3 linked regions of the Homo sapiens genome follow. The protein of the gene in region 3 purifies or fractionates together with the protein of the main gene of each other region. This does not show direct contact. Each region holds a gene or a part of one and is shown on either strand. Other genes may lie near its edges.

Region 1 (7,000 bases), about 88 Mb from region 3:
TCTTGACCAACCAGAGATTCTTTCTCATCTCCTAACAGAAGTTATTTCAGAGATACACAACGAGCTGTATGTATTCTGGGAACAGGCTCTGCCATTTTCTTCCCTTAACGACAGGGTCCAAAATAAATCTCCAAGGCTCCTTTGGACTCTGAGCTATCATGTCTCTTGTGTGAATCCAAGTGATGAAATCTGCGTATTTCACTATAAAACTCAAGTTCTTAGAGATCAGAACATAATGTTTTTTGTTTTTTTTTTGAGATGGAGTCTTACTCTATAGCCCAGGCTGGAATGCAATGGCATGATCTCGGCTCACTGCAACCTCTGCCTCCTGGGTTTAAGCAATTCTTCTGCCCCAGCCTCCCGAGTACCTAAGATTACAGGCTCACACCAACACACCTGGCTAATTTTTCGGTAGAGACGGGGTTTCACCATGTTGGTCAGGCTGGTCTCGAACTCCTGACCTCAGGTGATTCGCCCACCTCGGCCTCCCAAAGTGCTGGGATTATAGGCATCAGCCACCACGCCCGGCCAAAACATAAGGTTTTTAAAAATTAAAGAAATGTGAAAACACCCCAAGACTCCTCAGCTTTCTCCAGAAACAGATGAACATACCCTCAACTGATCAAGCTTCTCTCGGATCTGAATGAACCCCAAGTGTAACTTGCCACCGAAGTGGTCTGCCAGGCGACGGTCATTGTCATGGAGACCAAGGTAGGCTGAACAGACCTCGCAGACACGCAGCTTTTGCTGCTGAAAACTGGATGCAGGCATGGAATTTCTGTATTCTTCCTGAAGAAGGAAAATGGAGAAATAAAAGTGAGGTATATAGAACTGCCACCACAAATTCAATCTCCAAAATGAAAATATTTGATAAGATGACAGAGGTGACTTTTAAACAAATATTAAAAAAACACAAACAAAACTTCAGATATTTATAACCAACTCAATTTTCACTGTTTATTTAAGAAACGCGGCCAGGCACGGTCCCAGCACTTTGTGAGGCCAGGTGGGCGGACCATGTGGTCAAGAGATCAAGACCAGGCCAGGCGCGGTGGCTCACGCCTGTAATCCCAGCACTTTGGGAGGCTGAGGCTGGCGGATCACCTGAGGTCCGGAGTTCAAGATCAGCCTGACCAACATGGAGAAACCCCATCTCTATTAAAAATACAAAAGTAGCCGGGTGTGGTGGCGCATGCCTGTAATCCCAGCTATTCTGGAGGCTGAGGCAGGAGAATGGCTTGAACTCGGGAGGCGGAGGTTGCTGTTGAGCTGAGATCGCACAGGCAACAAGAGCAAAACCCTGTCTCAAAAAAAAAAAAAAAAAAAAAAAGAGAGATCGAGACCATCCTGGCCAACTTTGTGAAACCCCGTCTCTACTAAAAATACAAAAATCAGCTGGGTGTGGTGGCACATGCCTGTAGTCCCAGCTACTCAGGAGGCTGAGGCAGGAGAATCACTTGAACCTGGGAAGCGGAGGTTGCAGTGAGCCAAAACCGTGCCACTGCATTCCAGCCTGGCAACAGAGCGAGACTCCATCTTAAAAAAAAAAGGTACTAACAGGCTGGGCTCAGTGGCTCACGCCTGTAATCCCAGCATTCCGAGGCCAAGGCAGACAGATCACTTGAGGCCAGGAGTTCAAGACGAGCCTGGCAACATAGCAAAACCCTGTCTCTACTAAAAATACAAAAATTGGCCGGGCGCGGTGGCTCACGCCTGTAATCCCAGCACTTTGGGAGGCTGAGGCAGGCGAATCATGGGGTCAGGAGATCACGACCATCCTGGCTAACACGGTGAAACCCCGTCTCTACTAAAAAAACAGAAAAAATTAGCTGGGCGTGGTGGCGGGCGCCTGTAGTCCCAGCTACTCAGGAGGCTGAGGCAGGAGAATGGCGTGAACCCGGCAGGCGGAGCTTGTAGTGAGCCAAGATCATGCCACTGGGCGAAAGAGCGAGACTCCGTCTCAAAAGAAAAAAAAAAAAAAAAAGCCAGATGGTGGCAGGCATCTGTAATTCCAGCTACTGGAGAGGCTGAGGCACAAATTGTTTAAGCCCAGGAGGTGGAGGTTGCAGTGAGCTGAGATCACACCACTGCATTCCAACCTGGAGGACAGAGGAAAACTCCAAAAAGGAAAAAAAAAAAATTGTATTCCAGGCCTGGTGTAGTGACTCACACCTATAATCTCAGCACTTTAGGAGAGTGAAGCAAGAAGATCACTTGGCCCCAGGAGATTGAGATCACCCTGAGCAACACAGCAAGACTCAGTCTCTAAAAATAAGAAAATAATTAGCCCGCTGTGGTGGCACGTGCCTATAGTCCCACCTACTCAAGAGACTGATTCGAGAGGACTGCTTGAGCCCAGGAGGTTGAAGGGGCAGTGACCTGTGACTGCGCCACTGTACTTCAGCCTGGGTGACCCTGGCTGACAGCAGGACCCTCTAATATTAAAAAAAATAGGCTGGGCACAGTGGCTAACACCTGCAATCCCAGCACTTTGGGAGGCCAAGGCAGGTGGATCACAAGGTCAGGAGTCCGAGAAGGTGAAACCCCGTCTCTATTAAAAATACAAAAAAATTAGCTGGGCACGGTGGCTGGCACCTGTAATCCCAGCTACTCGGGAGGCTGAGTCTGAGAATTACTTGAACCCGGGAGTCAGAGGATGCAGTGAGCCGAGATCGCACCACAGCAATCCAGCCTGGGCGACAGAGCGAGACTCTGTCTGAGAAAAAAAAAAAAAAAAAAGTAGACAAGGAACTAGCAAGAACTTGAATTTCCATTATAGTATGCTACATAACTAAAAAAAAAAAAAAAAAAAAAAAACTTAAGCAAAAACAATATTGTGGTACACAAATATTCATAACATTACTCTGTCCCCTTCTATAGTTTTGAAACCTTAAATGCCACCTTCTAACATCTTTCAAAATAAACTCTGATTATGTTGAGTAAAAAAAGTCAGTCCCAAAAGGTTACCTACTGTATGATTCCATTTACATAACTTTTTTTTTTTTTTTGAGACGGAGTCTCGCTCTGTCGCCCAGCCTGGAATGCAGTGGCACGATCTCAGCTCACTACAAGCTCTGCCTCCCGGGTCCACACCATTCACCTGCCTCAGCCTCCTGAGTAGCTGGGACTACAAGCGCACGCCGCCACGCCCGGCCAATTTTTTGTATTTTTAGTAGAGACGGAGTATCACCATGTTAGCCAGGATGGTCTCGATCTCCTGACCTCGTGATCCACCCGCCTCAGCCTCCCAAAGTGATGGGATTACAGGCGTGAGCCACCGCACCAGGCTTTTTTTTTTTTTTTTTTTTTTTTGAGAGAGAGTCTTGCTCTGTCACCCATATTGGAGTGCAATGGCACGATCTCTGTTCGCTGCAACCTCCGCCTTCTGGGTTCAAGCGATTCTCCTACTTCAGCCTCCCAAGTAGCTGGGATTACAGGTGCCCGCCACCACACCTGGCTAATTTTTATACTTTTAGTAGAAATGGGGTTTCACCAAGTTGGCCAGGCTGGTCTCGAACTCCTGACCTCAGGTGATGCACCTACCTTGGCCTCCCAAAGTGCTGGGATTACAGGCATGAGCAACCGTGCCCGGCCATATTTTTAATTTCTTTGTAAAGATGGGGTATCCCTATGTTGCCCAGGCTGGTCTCAAACTCCTGGACTCAAGCAATCCTCCTGCCTCGACCTTCCAAAGTGTTGAGATTACAGGCATGAGCCACCATACCCACCCTCCATAAGCTTTTACGCTGGGCAGAAGGCAGCAAAAGGGGAGTCAGCATATCACATGGCAAAAGAAGGAGTGAGACAGAGAGAAGGACCTAGGCTCCTTTAAACAATCAGCTCTGAGGTGAACTCACTATCCCAGGGAGGGCACCAAGCCATTGATGAGTGAACCACCCCCATGACCCAAACACCTCCCACTAGACCCCACCTCCAACATTGGAGGTCACATTTCAACATGAGATTTGGACGTGCCACACATCCAAACCGTATCAAGTGTTATTTTTTATCTTTTATACTGTATTTTTACTGTACCTTTTCTATGTTTACGTACACAAATATTTAGGGGCCCACTGTGTTGCAACTGCCTATAGTATTCAGCACAGTAACATGCTGTACAGGTGTGGAGCCTAGGAGCAATGGGCTCTACCATACAGCCCACATGGCTATACCACCCAGGTTTGTTAAGCACACTCTATAATGTTCTCACAATGATGAACCATGGAACGCACTTCTCAGAATATTTAATCCTTGTCATTAAGAAAGATATGACTGTACTAATATCAGAAATGAAAGACAGGACATCATTACGGATCCACCCACTTTAAAGGAATAATACAAACAACTCTTAAAAACAACAACTCCATGCCCACAAAAGCGATAAACTAGATGAAATGGACCGATCCCTTCAAAGACAGCCAGGAGCAGTGGCTCACGCCTGTAATCCCAGCACTGTGGGAGGCTGAGGCAGGTGGATCACTTGAGGTCAGGAGTTTGAGACCAGCCTGACCGACATGGTGAAACCCCGTCTTCTCTACTAAAAATACAAAAATTAGCTGGGCATGGTGGCAGGCACCTGTAATCTCAGCTGCTCAGGAGGCTGAGGCAGGATAATCAGTTGAACCCAGGAGTTGGAGGTTGCAGCGAGCCATCGCACCACCGCACTCCAGCCTGGGCAACAGAGAGAGACTCCGTGTAAAAAAAAAGTATAATAATGTTGAAAGACACAATCTGCCAAAACTCACACAAGAAGAAACAGATGATCTGAATGAATCTGTATATTAATAACCTTCCAAAACAGAAAGCATCAGGTCCAGATGGGTTTACTGGTGAATTCTACCAAAGCATTAGGGAGCAAATCATGCCAATTCTCTACAATCGCTTTCAGAAAATAGAAGCAGAGAGAGTATCTTCTAACTCCTTCTATGGGGACATTACCATAATACCAAAACCAGATAAAGGTATTACAAGAGGCCAGGCATCATGGTGACTCATGACTCTAATCCCAGCACTTTGGGAAGCAGAGCTAGGCAGATCGCTTGAGCCAAGGATTTCAAGACCAGCCTTGACAACATGGCGAAACCCAGTCTCTCCAAAAAATACAAAAAATTAGCTGGGCTTGGTGGCATGTGCCTTCAGTCCTAGCTATTTGAAAGGCTGAGGCGGGAGAATCAAATGAGCCCAGGAGATCAAGCCTTCAGTGAGCCAAGATCGCGCCACTGCACTCCAGCCTGGGTGAGAAAGTGAGACCGTCTCAGGGCGGGGGGCGGGGTGGAGGTGGGGAGGGCTGGGCGCGGTGGCTCACACCTGTAATCCCAGCACTTTGAGAGGCCAAGGCAGGCGGATCATGAGGTCAGGAGATAGAGGCCATCCTGGCTAACACGGTTAAATCATATCTCTACTAAAAACACAAAAAATTAGCCAGGTATGGTGGCACACGCCTATAGTCTCAGCTACTCGGGAGGCTGAGGCAGGAGAATCGCTTGAGCCCGGGAGGCGGAGGTTGCAGTGAGCCGAGATCACGCCACTGCACTCCAGCCTGGGCGAATGAATGAGACTCCATCTCAAAAAAACACAAAAACAAAAACCAAAAAACAAATGACCAATTACACCAGCACCCGCAAGCATGAAATATTTAGGTAGAAATCTAACAAAACATGCATGAGATCTTCACTATGAGAAAAATTACAAGACTCATAAAAGGTATCAAATGGCCTGGCGAAGTGGCTCACGCCTGTGATCCCAGCACTTTGGGAGGCCAAGGCAGACGGATCACCTGAGGTCAGAAGTTTGAGACCAGCTTGGCCAACACGGTGAAACCCCATCCCTACTAGAAATGAAAAAAAAAAAAAAAAATTAGCCATGGGCCGAGCATGGTGGCTCACTCCTGTAATCCCAGCAGTTTGGGAGACCGAGGCGGGTGGACCACGAGGTCAGATTGAGACCATCCTGGCTAACACAGTGAAACCCCATCTCTACTGAAAGTACAAAAAAATTAGCCGGGCGTGGTGGTGGGCGCCTGTAGTCTCAGCTACTCTGGAGGCTGAGGCAGGAGAATGGTGTGAACCGAGGAAGCGGAGCTTGCAGTGAACTGAGATCGCACCACTGCACTCCAGCCTGGGGGACAGAGCGAGACTCCATCTCAAAAAAAAAAAAAAGAGAGAAAATTATAAGGAAGAGAAAATAAAATACATTTATAGTACTGTGCTGTACTGATCACTTCTGTACGTTTACACTGCTCATTTACAAGATGAATTGTCCGTCTGAAATGGTAGCAACTGCAGCTGCAGACCTCAATCTAATGTATACATCAAGCAACTCAACTTTTTCTTGTAATATCATGGCTGTTCTTGCCTTCTTGGGAGCATTTTCAGCATCACTAGTGGCATATGGATCCTATGGCATTACTCAAAGTTTATGGTATTGCACTAAACACGATGAAAAACGCCTAGGAACCCTGTGAGTTCACTTTTTACTGCAGTAGGAATGTACTGGAGAGGTGAACTGCTCCTTCGGAGATGATGAGTGTCACGTGGTGTTTCAAGGGGATACTCACGACCCTTGAGCTCCACACAATGGCAACAGGAAGTGGCATGAATTATTACAGTAGTACAGTACCTATTACAGTTATTCTTAGGCAGCCCTGATTTAATACTGCACCTCTGCACTACGTTTGTTAACATCTCTCTACGGCGAATGCTGTCATGTATGGTCTGTAAGCGTTTGCATGTAGCCTCTTCTTTTTTAGAGACAGGGTCTTGCTATGTTATCCAGGCTGGACTCCAAAAGTCCTAGGATTAAGGGATCCTCTCATCTCAGCCTCCCGAACAGCTGAGACTAAAGCCAAGAGCCACCATAGCTGGCCATATGCTTAAGTTTTGACAAATGTTACCTTTTCATAATAGACTTGTGTATATTTTATGGCAGTAAATAAAAGACTAGTATCCTCATATATTTTATGTATTCATGACATACCTAACATTTTCTGCAGACTTTGGGT
Region 2 (7,248 bases), on a different chromosome or scaffold from region 3:
ATTCAAGTTAAGGTATATTTAACTAACAGACTTAAATCTCCAATGAATTTTAAAAGGAACTAATTAAAAACTGTCAGGAAGGGGAGGGGGAAGAAACCTTGAGGGGGTGAGGAGGTAATGTTTTCCCAAAGCCCCAGGACTCTGTGCCACTTCAGATTCCTTCACAGACAGGACACTAAGAGTGGAGGGGGTCACTGCCACCTTGAACCCCACTTCCAAAAAAGAGAGTCGCTGCTTTATAGTCTCTGGAATTAAAAAAAAAAAAAAAAAAGGACAGAGTTGCCTTAAATACCCTCCTACCTACCTTTTCCATCTCTCTCCCACCTCCTGGATACCCATTTCCACCTCTTAGTGCCAAAGACACCCAACAGCGTTCCCATAGGCTGTTTGTGTGTCCAATACAAGGGTTCCCATTAAATGGTTTCAAATTACATGGTGTTATTCAGGGGACGTTTCCATGTTCCCCTATCCCTGGGTAACTTGAAGTTGACTGTATGCTAAAAAAGAACAATCCTAATTATTAAAAGTCCTGAATCATAAAATGATATATATAAACTCATTAAATGGTAAGAAAAAAAAGAATGTTCTGATTATTTTGCATATATAGAATTAATTTTGATATCTAAAAAAAACTCCACTCAATTATTTTTCCTTGAAAGTAGTATATTTTTTACTTCTAACCCAATACAGCAGTGAAAATCCAGTCATTTCAGCTAAACAATACTGTGGACTCGTAAATATGAGTTCGATCATAAATCCTCTAAGTCTGAAGGTTAAAAAAAAAAATCCAGTAACAGACACATAAAAAAATACACAAAGTGGATTTTAAGAAATCCATGTTTCTGCTGACTACACACACAGAAATATATATATTTAAATTTAGCTTTGCAATACTAGACGGGCTGCCTAATTCAGAAACTTATCAGGAGATGGTTTACCTTGATCCAACTACCCTCCCAGTAAAACTAAGAAATCCAATCCATGAAGAAGATCCCAAAAATGGTATCCATCAAGGATTAAAAGGATCATGTAAAGCACGTCTTAAATAACTTAATTTTATTACACAGATTAGTTATTCTGTTAGCTAGGATCCAATGAAACCCGTTCCCAATACCCTCTCTCATGTTGGAAAAGGAGGAATGTTAAGACATGCTGCAGTGATAAAGTAACCATTCTTATCTAAACGTGAGAAATGATAACAGTTAAAAGTTTCTCCAGTGGCATTTTAAGTTAATGTTAACTTTCCATACAAAACTCATTTCCTTCCCAATCTTTCCTCTCTACACAACCACAAGTAGGTTTGCCATCTACACCTATTTGTCTATATATTCTACAAATAAAAGTTCCCAATATGGGTTTTTATTAAAACTGAAAATGTGAACACTGAAAAGCCACTCTACGCACTGCTGAAAGATTTGAATGCAATAAAATTTTTAAAATTTACTCATATTTTGCTGTAAAGCACTCATGTAAATTAAAAGAGTAACTTAAAAACTAAATTTAAGACGTGCCTTTTCTCTTAAATCAATACACTTAAATAACTTCTCAAGAAAAAAAGCATTTCCTTAGTGGCTAAGAAACTATCTGCCTAAAGAAGCAACACATAAAAACTACCAAGGATTTTGCTGTGTTAAGAAAGTAATGAACTAGACCTTTCCTACATATTTGAATGTATTTAAGTTGAATTTGAGAGTACATTACTAATTAACATCACCAAAAAAGCAACAGCATTTCATCATTTTATTTAGAAATTCTCTTTATGACAAAGGATAATCCAGCAATTAAGGGCTCTCTATACAGATTCTAAACTAAACGCCTGAAAGGATCTTTGTTCTCCTCTATTCTACTTCACTGGGTACCAAATTTTCAAAATCGTTCTGTTAGGGACATGCAACATTTGTCAATATTTACTGAACAAAGCCTCTATTAAATTGTCTAACAAAATGGAGGTCTCTCGGAAAAACAGGCCATAACATGTTCCTTCTCACAAAATGGGGCCAAACACACCCACTTAAGAAACCATGGTTTGGGTCAGATTTTCCATAAAAATGGTTGTTTCTGTGGGGCTCGAGGGTGCATCTCTGAGACTGGGTTAGTAATAAAGGTTTCCTCCTGACCCAGGAAGAGGAGGGGGAAGCTTCTCTCTAGGTACTCTGGAGGACGGCGGCGAGGGATGATCCCAAAGCTCTGGGTTAAGGAATTATATCGGGGGTGGAGGCCTTAGCTTTCCGCAGGTACCTAACCAGCGACAAAACGGGCCCCCCAACTACGCAACAGAGACGCGGGCTCTCCCGTCTCAGCCAAGTCAACATTAAAAGCACAAACTCTCCTTTCTGCCTCCAGGCCCCGCCTCACCCCATTGGCAGCAGTTCCCGCCAATCCGCATGGTCACCGCCCCCCCTGCCCGCCTGCCGAGCCCTGATTGGATGGGACGGGGGACGGGGACCTCGTGTTACCAATCTGGGAGCCCCTTACTCAGCCACACGCGCGCGCCCAGGTGCGCCCTCGGAACCCCTTCCCTTCGCCGTCCCCGTCCCCTCCCCCACCCCCAGGGCCCTGGCAGAGACTTACCGTCCCGGGAGGTGCCCATCAACTGGTCCAGCATCGCGCGCATCTGGGCCTGCGCCGACATGGCGGCGGCGTAGCGGGCGGACGGGCGGGGGTGGGGCGCAGACCGGGCCCTTTTGGGCTGGGGGATAAGGGGAAGGGATGGGGGAAGGTGCGCTGCTGTCTCGGTGGCCGCCGCCGCCTCGAGGCGTGCGGAAAGGGAGCCGGAGGGGTTGCGGGAAGAGTCCGGACTGCGCTCCTCACGACGACGTGTACGTGGAAGACGACAGCCCCCGACAGCGACCCTCGTGCCCTCACTCTCCGTCCGGTTCTTGGGACAGAAGCGACACGGGCCAAGCAAGCTCTCGCCTTCAACACCGCCACCCGCCAGAAGCCGTCAACCCCCCCTCAAGCTCTGACGCCGCTCGCCGCCACCGTCGCCACGACGGGAGCGCGCACGCTCCTCGCGCTCAGTCGTTTCCCGCGGGGGCTCCACCAACTGGCGTCCAGCTGTATCACTCCGCCCGCCCCGCCCGAGTGGAGTTCCACCCTAACGGCTCTGGGCGCGTGCACGCGCGCTCCTCCCGCCCCTTTACCCCGGATCTCGCGATACTCTGGTTCCTTAACTGACTGTGCAAGCCGGATCCGCCCCGAGGCGCCAAACCTTACATTACATTCCCTCCCGGCTGTAGGGCTGGCGGCTAAGGCTGCGCTGCCCGCGGTGATGGCGATTCAGACCCAAATTAGCAAAATGCGCTAGAGGTTAGCCTGGGCGGAAAGTAAGTAGAGACCATGCCCATCGTCGACCGGACTGCGGTCAGCCTCCTTGGCGTCTGAGGTGGGCGTGCTCGGGGCGAACGCCCGCCCCGAGTGGCGTGGACGCGTCCTGGTTCTCGTGCGCCTTTCCCGGCCGGGAGCAGGCCTGTCTCGCCGCCGCCGGGGCCGCGTTCCTTCCGCTGCGTGGGGCTTTAAGGCTCCTCGGCTGGGAAGTGTCAACTTCAGGAGAAAGCGCCCGAAAGCAGTACCCTAGGAAACAGGCGCGCCGACCCATTCGGATTCATCTTTACCTACAAGGTCGCGGGCGGCTTAGTCTGAATGTGAAACCATAAAAACTCAGCGTATTCTCAGCTACTGGGGAGGCGATCTCGGGGAGCAGGGAGCCAGCGGCGCTGGCCGCAGGGAAGCCTGGATTCTGAAGCCCGGCCCGTGACTGGGGCCTTGGCTTCAGTTCTACCCCTCGTAGGGCTGGTGGAGGTGGTCACACGTCTGCTATGGCGTGGCTGTTAGAACAAACTGGAATAAAATACTTAGCCCTGAGCCTTTCCCTGGTGTTTCTAAAAACTGTTTTAGTAAAATATTAATTCCTTGCCGGGCGCGGTGGCTCACGCCTGTAAACCCCGCACTTTGGGAGGCCAAGGGAGGTGGATTGCCTGAGGTCAGGAGTTCAAGATCAGCCTGGCCAACATGGTGAAACCCTGTCTCTACTAAAAATATAAAAATTAGCCGGGCGTGATGGCGGGCGCCTCCCCAGCTACTCGGGAGGCTGAGGCAGGAGAATCGTTTGAACCCGGGAGACGGAGGTTGCAGTGAGTCGAGATGACGCCACTGCGCTGCAACCTGCGCGACAGAGCGAGACTTCTAAAAAAAAAAATTCCTTAAGTAAGACATAGGTCAGTGTGCAGGAAGAAAGGTTGCTTAAAAAGAAATCTAAAACTGTAAGAAAAATGAATGAGTTAATAAAACCAAATGTTTAAGAAGACAGGCACTTTCTAGATACTTTGAAAGGACATAATAGAGATTTGTGTTCCATTAACACTGTATATTCATCGCCTAAAAAGAAATTTAAAACTGTAAGAAGAATGAGTTAATAAAATCAAATGTTTAAGAAGACAGGCACTTCCTGGATACTTTGAAAGGAAATAATAGAGATTTGTGTTCCATTAACACTGTATACTCATCGCCTTGGAACTGTTATTAGCAGATCAATAAAAAACATGAATAGTAGTAATAGTCCCAAAATTCCTTTAAATGTATATTGCGGCTGGGAGGGATGGCTCATGCCTGTAATCCCAGTACTTTGGGAGGCAGAGGCGGGCGGATCACCTTGAGGTCAGGAGTTCGAGACCAGCCTGACCAACATGGTGAAATTCCATCTCTACTAAAAATACAAAAATTAGCCGGGCATGGATGCGCGTGCCTGTAATCCCAGCTACTCGGAGGCTGAGGCAGGAGAATCACTTGAACCCGGGAAGTGGAGGTTGCAGTAAGCCGAGATTATGCCACTGCACTCCAGGCTGGGTACAAAGCAAGACTCTATCTCAAAAATAAATGCGTATTGGGCCAATGAAAATTTTTGAGGTCGGACGCAGTGGCTCACACCTGGAATCCCAGCACTTTGGGAGGCCGAGGCGGGCGAATCACGAGGTCGGGAGTTTGAGACCAGCCTGCCAACATGGTGAAACCCTGTCTCTACTAAAAATAGAAAAAATGAGCTGGGCGTGGTGGCGCATGCCTGTAGTCCCAGCTACACCGGAGGCTGAGGCAGGAGAACCGCTTGAACCCAAGAGGCGGAGGTTGCAGTGAGCCGAGATCGCGCCATTGCACTCCAGCCCTGGTGAGTGTGAGACTCCATCTCAAAAAAAAAAAAAAAATTATTTTGAATCAAGTTATCTTTAGTAATACACAAAATAGCTTCTCTTCAGTTATTCAGAGAACTCTGAATTCCAAACTCCAAATACTAGGATATCCTTTGGGAACTGATTTATAATAATAGAAAAATGTGCAAATTAATATGTCTTTGAGGGATACACTATTATGTACACAATGTGATCTGACCCTGAAAAACAGTGTATTTAAAGAAATACACTAAAACCAATAATTATGTTTTGTTGAAGAGATTTGAGTTCTTTTTTTTATTTTAGATGTCTTATAAACAGCATATAATTGGGGCTTAAAAATAGTCTATACAATACATAATGATCAAAATTGAGGAGTGAAATTGAGGAGTGAATTAAGTGATGTTCACTCTTGGAAGCATTGATGATTTATATTCATGTAATTACTCCTGTGTTTGGGTTTAAAACTCTTATTTTTGCCTATTTGTCTCATCTATTTCATGTTTTTCTCTCCTTTCCTGCCTGATTTTTAATCATTCCAATTTCTTCCACTCTAGTAGTGTGGAAGTTTCATTTTATTATATTTTTATTCTTTCAGTGATTACCCTAGAAGTTATAATGTGTATCCTTAAGGTATCAAAGTCTAATTTAATCAATACCTTTATACTCCCCTCCCCCAAGAGAGGTAATACAAGGAACCTAGAACACTAACTCCATTTACTCTCATCCCAAGTTATATGCTCTTGTTACCAGGTCTTTTAGTTCTCTTATTTTTTAAAACCAAGTTTTATATAATCAATGTTCTTTATTTACCACTTATTTTGCTCTTCATTCCTTCGGAAATCTCTGCCTGTCCATCTGGGATCATTTCCTTTTTGTCTGAAGTTTATCCTTTAGCACAGGAGTCAGCAAGCTACGGTCCACAGGCCAAATGCAGCCCACGGCCTATTTTTGTGAATAAAGTTTCACAAAAATTCGAATACTGCCAGGCTCGTTCATTTACATATTGTTGTGGTTGCTTTTGCCCCACAATAGAGTTGGGTGGTTTGTGAGGGATCCCATACTGTGTGGCCTACAACACTCAAATATTTACTATCTGACTTTTTTTTTTTTTTTAACGCAGGTTTTCACCATGTTGGCCAGGCTGGTCTCAAACTCCTGACCTTAAGTGATCCACCTGCCTCGGCCTCCCAAAGTGCTGAGATTACCAGGGTGAGCCACTGTGCCCAGCCTGACTATGAAGTTTGCCTACCTTGCTTCAGGGTTTGTTTTTGTGTTGGTCGGCTAGTTGGGGGAACGCTCCCATTTTGTTTATCTAAAAAGATCTTTATTTTGCTTTAAATTCTAAATGGATATTTTTATTAGCTAAATCCTAGGTTGGAGGTTCCTTTTTTTTTTTTTTTTTTTTTTTTTTTTTGAGATAGGGTCTTGCTCTGTCACCCAGGCTGGAGTGCAGTGGCGAGATCTCGCCTTGGCTCACTGCAGCCTTGGCTTCCCGGGCTCAAGTGATCCTCCCACCTCAGCCTCTCAAGTAGCTGGGACTGCAGGTATGCACCACCACACTGAGCTAATTTTTAAAATTTTTCTTGTAGAGACAAGGTCTCCCTATGTTGCCCAGGCTGGTCTCAAACTCCTGGGCTCAAGCAATCTGCCCACCTCAGCCTCCTGAAGTGCTGGAATTACAGGTGTGAGCCACCACGCCCAGTGGTTATTTTCTTTGGGCACATACATTCTACCTAACCTTTTACCTTCCACTGCTCCTAAGAAGTCAGTTCTGTTTTTCACTCTTTTAAAGATAGCTGGCTACTTTATCATGCCATTATGGACTCATTGAACAATGAGTTTTCATTCATTCGTTCATTGAGAATCCATTAACTAACATCTTTTGTCAATTTAGGAAATTCTTAGCTCTTACCTCCTCAGATATTGCCCCTCTCATCAACTTCTGGACATTTAAATACATGCATATTAGATAGTTTTCACTGTATCCTATCTCTTTACTCTCAGTCTTGCACTTTTTACCTTGGTCTTTCAAAGCCGATGCCTTTTTCTGACAAATTTTATAGTTCATTAATGTCACTATGGA
Region 3 (7,529 bases):
CTGACTGTTCAAGACTGGGAGTCTGCGTGGGGTTGTGGCAGTAAGTCACCGGTGGCAAACTGGCAATTCTCTCTCTTGCCTAGCTATCGACATTAGTAACACCCTATACTATCTTCGTACACTTTTTATTACAATGTATAAACATCTTCCTCATAGAAGGGCAGGTAGTTCACATCTCCCCAGCTGCCTAAGCGGAGCGCCTGGTGCCCAGTAGGATGCCCCAAGCTGAACCCAGACCTGAAATATGACAAATTCTGATTCTCATGTTTTATAGTTTAATGTCAACCTTGGAAACAAAGTGATCTCTTAAATAAACCAACTTTTATGCAAAACTAAATGTCTCCTCAAACTAGTTTTAAAAATCACACAATTGGCTGGGTGTGGTGGCTCATGCCTGTAATCCCAGCACTTTGGGAGGCTGAAGCGGGAGGATCACGAGGTTGGGAGTTCGAGATCACCTTGGCCAACACAGTGAAACCCCTGTCTCTACTAAAAATACAAAAATTAGCTGGGCATGGTGGCACGTGCCTGTAGTCCCAGCTACTCAGGAGGCTGAGGCAGGAGAATCACTTGAACCCAGGAGGAGGAGGTTGCAGTGAGCCGAGATCATGCCACTGCACTCCAGCCTGGGTAGCAGAGTGAGACTCCGTTTCAAAAAATAGTAATAAGGTGCTACGAAGGGAAACGTGGCCTCTTAAGTGTAGACAATGAAATGAGAAGTGTAGACAGGGGTGTCAGTAGAAGAGTCTCAACTGATACCCACGTTTGCAATTTGTGCTCAGTTTGGTCTTCTTACACTATCTATAACTGAAGATTTTCAGCACAATTTAGAACTAAATCCTTAGTCCTCTGATCCACCAGATGGGTGAACTTGCCTAAGGAATGAAATAACAAGTGCCCATCGTCCCGTCTCCGTTGCTTTCTGCATTTGGCAGATGATACTTGATAGATATTTGTTGAATACATGACAAAAAACTCGTTAATTGAGGAACTACCTGTTGCCTACCAGAAAGGAATTTAAAATAAGTGCCCAGGAGGAGGAGGTTGCGGTGAGCCGAGATCCTGCCACTGCACTCCAGCCTGGGCAACAGAGTGAGACTCCGTCTCAAAAAATAATAGTAATAATAAAGAGCAGGTGCTACCTCCCTTCCGAGCAGCCCCTCTGGGAGGATGCACAGACTCCAACGGCACTGCTGAAATGCAGAGCGTTTGGGGACCTTCTCATTGCGAATGACCTTCCAAGCCTAAAGAAGTCTTCTGGTATTCTTAGTGGTGGCAAATCTTCCTCCTCTCAAGCTAGTCACTTTGATAAAGTGCTGCAAGTCAGAGTCTCACCTGATAAGGTGAGCTACCAACCACGTAAGTAAACTTTTGGTCAAACCTGGAGGGTGACTATTGAATAAGACTGATTTTCCCATATGACTACATTTTTACTACCACAACAGGAGTTCTAAAGAGATTCTGGCAAAGAAGCACCGATGAAATACAAGCACATTTTGGGACAATTACTTTCAACAGAGCAGTACCTATTTGAATGCCTAAGTTCTGGTACATCTGGTTAAAATTCTGACTCATAACCTCATGGACTTAAAATATCTAAATGAACGTTATCAAGGTTGGTGACAGACCCCACGTGCAAAGTGACCAAGCGTGACCACTAAACTCCTTGATAAAGAGGTACTCACCTTGAGATGCTCTGTAGCTGTGACAAAATACAAATCTCTGTAAACACGATGTAGGCCATAGGTTAACTTACCTGTTTGCTTTCTGGAGTGACTCCACAAAGCTTTCTTACAATATTTCAGCATGTCCCACCTACAACGGGAGAGGAGTTTCCGGCTTTGGGACACATTTGACTGGTTCCAGGGCTGGCTGGGCTCCATACTGCCCTTAGATAGTAAAATTATCAGGAAAAGACTCTCCTCCCAAAGCTGGGAAGCGGGATTCAGCCGAGGTCAAACCTCACCCGGATAATCCCAACTACTGAACGGGAAAGGACTACTCTACAGACAACAGGCTGGAGGTGAGTCTAACAGGAGACATGATGAGCACCTTGCTACACCCCAAACGGTACTTCAGATGCCAAACACTCTCTTCTTCCATTTTCCCAAATGGGTCTGAAGAATGACCTACTCTTGCAAATGAGTTAGCGTTGTTCGAACAAAGCTCATTTAAAACGGCCACTCTACCCGGCAAACTCAGTTGTCATAAAGTATTCAGGAAAAATGTTTGGCAGGAGTAAGGCTGTTAAGTTTCAGTTCTTCCAGCATTATAGCTGCAGTTGGTCTATATAAAGGACCCAGCACCTCTGATCTCCTAATCCAAGGGGCAAGGAAGTTACATACTCCTAAGAGACCGGCGCGCGTCTTGGGGCAATCACTGCGCCCAACCTGTGCACACTTTGAAGCTGCGGAGCAAGTTCCAGGAGGTTCATAAAGAGCTCAAAGTTCTCCGAAGAGCCCAGCAGCAGCCCGGGATGACCTACTCTGGAGGTGAATCTGGGCGCCTCTCACCGCCCCTTAGCCGGCGGCACACATGTGCCACGCGAGTGGCCCGGAAGAGAAATGACAGCTTCAGGAAAATAAACTCTGCCGCGGGGCGCGGAGGCAGCGCGCGAGGAGCTCGGGCGCCCAGGGCGCCCCAGGACCGCGGGGCCGGCTTACGGACGGAACTCGGGGTGGTGCCTGTCTCAAGGTCCCCTTCCCTGGGCCCGAGGGCCACGCTTCGGCCGGTGGGTCCGCACGGCCGGAGGCGCGCCGGGCTCCCGGGCCTCCCTCCCGCGGCCGCCGCCGCCGCCTCGGCGGCCTCCTCCTCCCGCCGCCGCCGGCCCGGCCTCCCGCCGCCCTCCCGGCCCCAGCTAACCTCAGCGCTAGGGCGGAGAGGAGGCCACGGCTCCCCTGGAGTCGGAGCGGCGTGGAGAAGACGTCCCTTGGCCCTTCCGCTCTTCACAGGTTCTGGCTCCAGGCTCGACACGGGCGGAACAAACGGGCTCCACTACCCGCGGGGGCCGGCCATTGTGCGACGTCATCAGGCCGCGACGGTAGTCCTACGGCCGGCGGGCTTCCCTCCCTCGCCCCGCCCCCTCCAGCTTCCTTCCGGCCTCCGCGCGGTTCCGCCCCCGCAGCGCGCGCCCGGACCCGCGCGAGCCAGCCGAACCCCCGCTACAGCGCAGGCGCCACGGGGAGTTCGCTTCTCAGGCGGCGGGCGTGCGGATCCGCGCCTGCGCACAGAGCTCCCCGCGGCCGCCGGGTCACGTGACGGGGCTCCGGCTGGGCCGGCGGGTTCTTCATCCCCGGGGATGATCGAGTTCATCAAAGTGGAAAACTTAAGGCGGTCTTCGTCGGGCTGATACTTCCTGCTTTATTGAATGTTGATATTAAATGCTTACCTCCGGAATTATTTTTTGAGGTATCGACTTTAGATTAAAAGCCTAACAATTCTTACCTTTCCCGTGGGCTGCCTGGCTCCCCGCGCGGTTCAACGCGAGCAGCGCCAGTGAGGGGACCTGTCGCGTGTCCTGCTCAGCGCGGTGTCCCACGGGCGCGTCCACAGCCCGGGGCGTCCAGGGGCTGCAGCGGTGCGAGCTGCTCTAGAGACGGAGGGCCCGGCCGGAGACCAGGGGCCGGCGGTTTCATCCTGCGCTGACCCTTGCCAACGACGTGGCTGGTCCTGGGGATCACAGGGCTTCGCTCATCCCATCTTCCTCCATATCCCCAAGGTGGAAACAAGGGGGCGAGATGTCCACAAACTGAGGAACAGACAAAATGCTGGCTGTCCATGCAGTGGAGTGTGAGTCAGTCATCAAGAAGAGTGAAGTTCAGACCCATGCCACAACATGGGTGAACCTTGGAAACATACTAAGTAAAGCAAGCCAATCGCAAAAGGACAAAACCTGTGCGACTCCATGCTATGGACCGAGTTCTGTCCCCCTAACATTTGTATGTGAAGCCTTAATCCCCAATGTGACTGTGTTTGCAGAAAGGGCCTTTAGAGAAGTAATTAAGGTTAAATGAGATTATAAGGGTGGGGTCCTGATCTGATAGGATTAGTGTCCTTGGAAGAGGTACCACAGGCCTGGCACTGTGGCTCACACCTGTAATCCTAGCACTTTGGGAGTCCAAGGTGGGAGGACCACCTCCTCCAGGAGTTTGAGACCAGCCTGGGCAACAAAGCAAGACCCCTGTCTCTACAAAAAAATTAACAGGGCACCGTGGTGCGTGCCTGTAGTCCCAGCAACTTGTTATGGTTACGTAAGAGGAATGTGAATTCAACCCTGGTGATTTTGGGTCGTGTCAGGAGCAGCCCTGCGACACCAGTTGGCACCTTCTGCAGACTCTATGTGTCGATAAGACAAGGTCCCACCCAGCAAGTGCCCTTTTCTCAGCTGATGAACATAAGCCTGCATGGACGTTACTGTCCATGGAAAGGAGCGGCCGGCACCGGCTGTGACAGACACGTGCCTGTCTGCGATCTGAGTTTCATGAACAGTAAACTCTGTTGGTCACAGCCTCTTTGGAAAACAATGTTAGTTAAAAGAAGTGCCCTGTGACCAGCAGTGCCACCCTCGACAGGGTTCTCCAAGTGGGACCCGGGCAAGCAGCCTCAGTATCACTAGGGGTTGTTAGCAATGTGCCTTCCTGGGCTCTGCCCCAGAGTGGCCGCACCAGTGACTGGGAGTGAGGTCCCAGGGCCCTGTGGTCCATGAAGAGCTCTCAGGGGATTCTGATGCCCAGTGGTACAGGTGGGCCACCGGACTGGGGTGTCATCTGCCCGTGGGCATGAGACATGAACAAGGACATAGCAGGTCTGTTAGTAGTCATAACTAAAAGAACAAAGGAGCCGGGCACGGTGGCTCATGCCTGTAATCCCAGCACTTTGGGAGGTCGAGGCGGGCAGATCGCGAGGTCAGGAGATCGAGACCATGCTGGCTAACACAGTGAAACCCCGTCTCTACTAAAAATACAAAAAATTAGCCGGGCGTGGTGGCGGGCGCCTGTAGTCCCAGCTACTCGGGAGGCTGAGGCAGGAGAATGGCATGAACCCGGGAGGCGGAGTTTGCAGTGAGCCCAGATCATGCCACTGCACTCCAGCCTGGGCAACAGAGCGAGACTCCGTCTCAAGAAAAAAAAAGAACAAAGGAAAAAACCAGAAAACCACCCAGATGTTGATGAGCAGATGATTGTACTGTTGTAATAGTAATCTGGTACAACATTTGCAACATCGCGGTTGTTAAAAATGCTAACGCATGAACCTCCAGTGTGTATACACAGATATAAATAAACGGGTGAAGACCATCTGTGAGGTTGCATGACAAAGGCAAGTGCAGAAGCAGACAGGGTGGGCACATTTCTTTTCTTTCTTTCTTTCTTTTTTTTTTTTTTTGAGACAGAGTCTCACTCTGTCGCCCAGGCTGGAGTGCAGTAGCGCCATCTCGGCTCCCTGCCACCTCCGCCCCCTGGGTTCAAGCGATTCTCCTGCCTCAGCCTCCCGAGTAGCTGGGACTACAGGCGCCCGCCACCACGCCCGGCTAATTTTTTTGTATTTTTAGTGGAGACGGGGTTTCACCGTGTTAGCCAGGACGGTCTCGATCTTCTGACCTCGTGATCCTCCCGCCTCGGCCTCCCAAAGTGTTGGGATTACAGGCGTGAGCCACTGCGCCCGGTCCACGTTTCTATCAAATTGAAATCATGAGCGGTTTTGCTGAGGGTGTGGGGCACCCAGAGCCTGCGGCCTGTGCTCGAGTGAAAATGGTGGCCCCGCTCCAGAAGCCTGCGACGGCGCTCACGGAACCGCAGCCTTCGTGCGGCGGCACCTGGGCCGTGCTACTCCTCTGTGACTTCCCGGAAGAGATGAGCTGCTACGTCCAGCAAAAGGCACATCCAAGATCGTTCACCCCAGCATGACTCGTTACACTCCGGACTAGAAGGAACCCCAAGGTGCTTCAGTGACAGAACGATGAACCAGCTGGGGTGTAACCCCCATGCAATGGAATATCGTACAGGAACGAAAAGGACACGCTACCCCTACAAGCAACATGGATCTCAGAGGCAGGATGTTGCGCAGAAGAAACCAGACACAAATGCTTCGGCTCGTGTTGCTGCGACTCATTACAGGCAGCCGAATCTGCGGTGATGGGGGCCCCAGGAGCAGTGACCAGGAGGCAGTGCCACGGAGCCTGCGGTGGGGGCTGATAGTCAGTAGCGTGACCTGGTTGGGATGTTCTGTTTTTAAGCTGGAGTCCATCATGTTTGTTTATTTGTTCATTTCGTAGAGGTGGGGGTCTTGTAGAGGTGGGGGTCTCACTCTGTTGCCCAGGCTGGTCTCAAACTCTGGGCCTCAAGCGATCCTCCCACCTTGGCCTTCCAAAGTGCTGGGATTACAGGTGTGAGCCACTGCATAAGGCCGTTATTGTTATTAGTGCTTAAAAATATTTAGTAAACATTTTATTTAGCCTAAAAACCATTCAGAGAGCAGAGGCTGGATGGAACACGGCGTGCCAGGCGGTGAGAGCACAGACCCTCCTCTTCCAGAGCAGGAAGTGGGTAAATGACTTTTAAGCCTCATTTCTGGGGTGGCAAAACTCTTCTGTATGAAGAAGTACAAATATGTAATGTCCCATAATGGCAGCTATGGGACGTTACGTATTTGCCAAAACCCACATAACGCACAACGCCAAGAGTGAACTGTAATGTAAACTGTGGACTTAAGTCAATGATCGTGTCCCGATACGGGCTGGTTGGTTGTGATGCAGGGCAGGTGAGGCCCAAAGTGGAGCTTAGCCTGCCAGCGTTCTTGGCTTTGCCCAAGAAAGAATTCAAGGACAAGCCGGAGGTAGAAGAGAACAACTTGATTGAAGAGGCAGTGTGGCAGGTCCGTGACGGCTCCTGCAGAGCTGGGCTGCCCAGAAGGCAGAGAGCAGCAGCTCAACGCACTTCTGCAGACCCATTATACCCACTTTTAATTACATGCAGATTAAGGGGCAGTTTATGCAGAAATTTCTGGGGAAGGAGTAGTCACTTCTGGGTCACTGAGTCATTGCCATGGAAAGGGGTGGGAGTGTTGCCATGGCGATGGTAAACTGACACAGAACACTGGTGGGTGTGTCTTTTTTTTCTTTTCCTGAGACGGAGTCTCCCTCTGTCACCCACATTAGAGTGCAGTGGCCTGATCTCGGCTCACCACAACCTCTGTCTCCTGGGCTCAAGCAATTCTTCTGCTTCAATCTCCTGAGTAGCTGGGGCTGCAGGCATGGGACATCATGCCTGGCTAATTTTTGTATTTTTAGTAGAGACAGGGTTTCACCATGTTGGCCAGGCTGGTCTCAAACTCCTGACCTCTGGTGATCTGCCTGCCTGGGCTCCCAAAGTGCTGGGATTACAGGCATGAGCCACTGCGCCCAGTCTGGTGTGTCTTATAAAAAGCTGCTTCTGCCCTGCCCTGTTTTAGCCAGTCCTGTTTGGTCCCAGCTCCAAGCCCTGCCTCTGGAGTCAAGTCCTGCCTCCTATCTCAATTGTAATAAATGTTCTGCA

Evidence for each region. The genes of interacting proteins can lie anywhere in the genome.
Region 1: the proteins of ZC3H18 (region 3) and LUC7L purify together in Homo sapiens (affinity purification with mass spectrometry; 4 studies listed by BioGRID and IntAct, with this or other methods). This does not show direct contact.
Region 2: the proteins of ZC3H18 (region 3) and LUC7L2 purify together in Homo sapiens (affinity purification with mass spectrometry; 5 studies listed by BioGRID and IntAct, with this or other methods). This does not show direct contact.

What each region holds. Positions count from the first base shown.
Region 1 is NC_000016.10:198,450-205,449, forward strand, and holds part of LUC7L (putative RNA-binding protein Luc7-like 1), read right to left. Parts: intron 790-7,000; coding exon 613-789; intron 1-612. UniProt on the Homo sapiens protein: May bind to RNA via its Arg/Ser-rich domain.
Region 2 is NC_000007.14:139,355,646-139,362,893, reverse strand, and holds the start of LUC7L2 (putative RNA-binding protein Luc7-like 2), read right to left. Parts: upstream 3,001-7,248; 5' UTR 2,633-3,000; coding exon 2,572-2,632; intron 1-2,571. UniProt on the Homo sapiens protein: May bind to RNA via its Arg/Ser-rich domain.
Region 3 is NC_000016.10:88,565,900-88,573,428, reverse strand, and holds the start of ZC3H18 (zinc finger CCCH domain-containing protein 18), read right to left. Parts: upstream 3,027-7,529; 5' UTR 2,863-3,026; intron 1-2,862.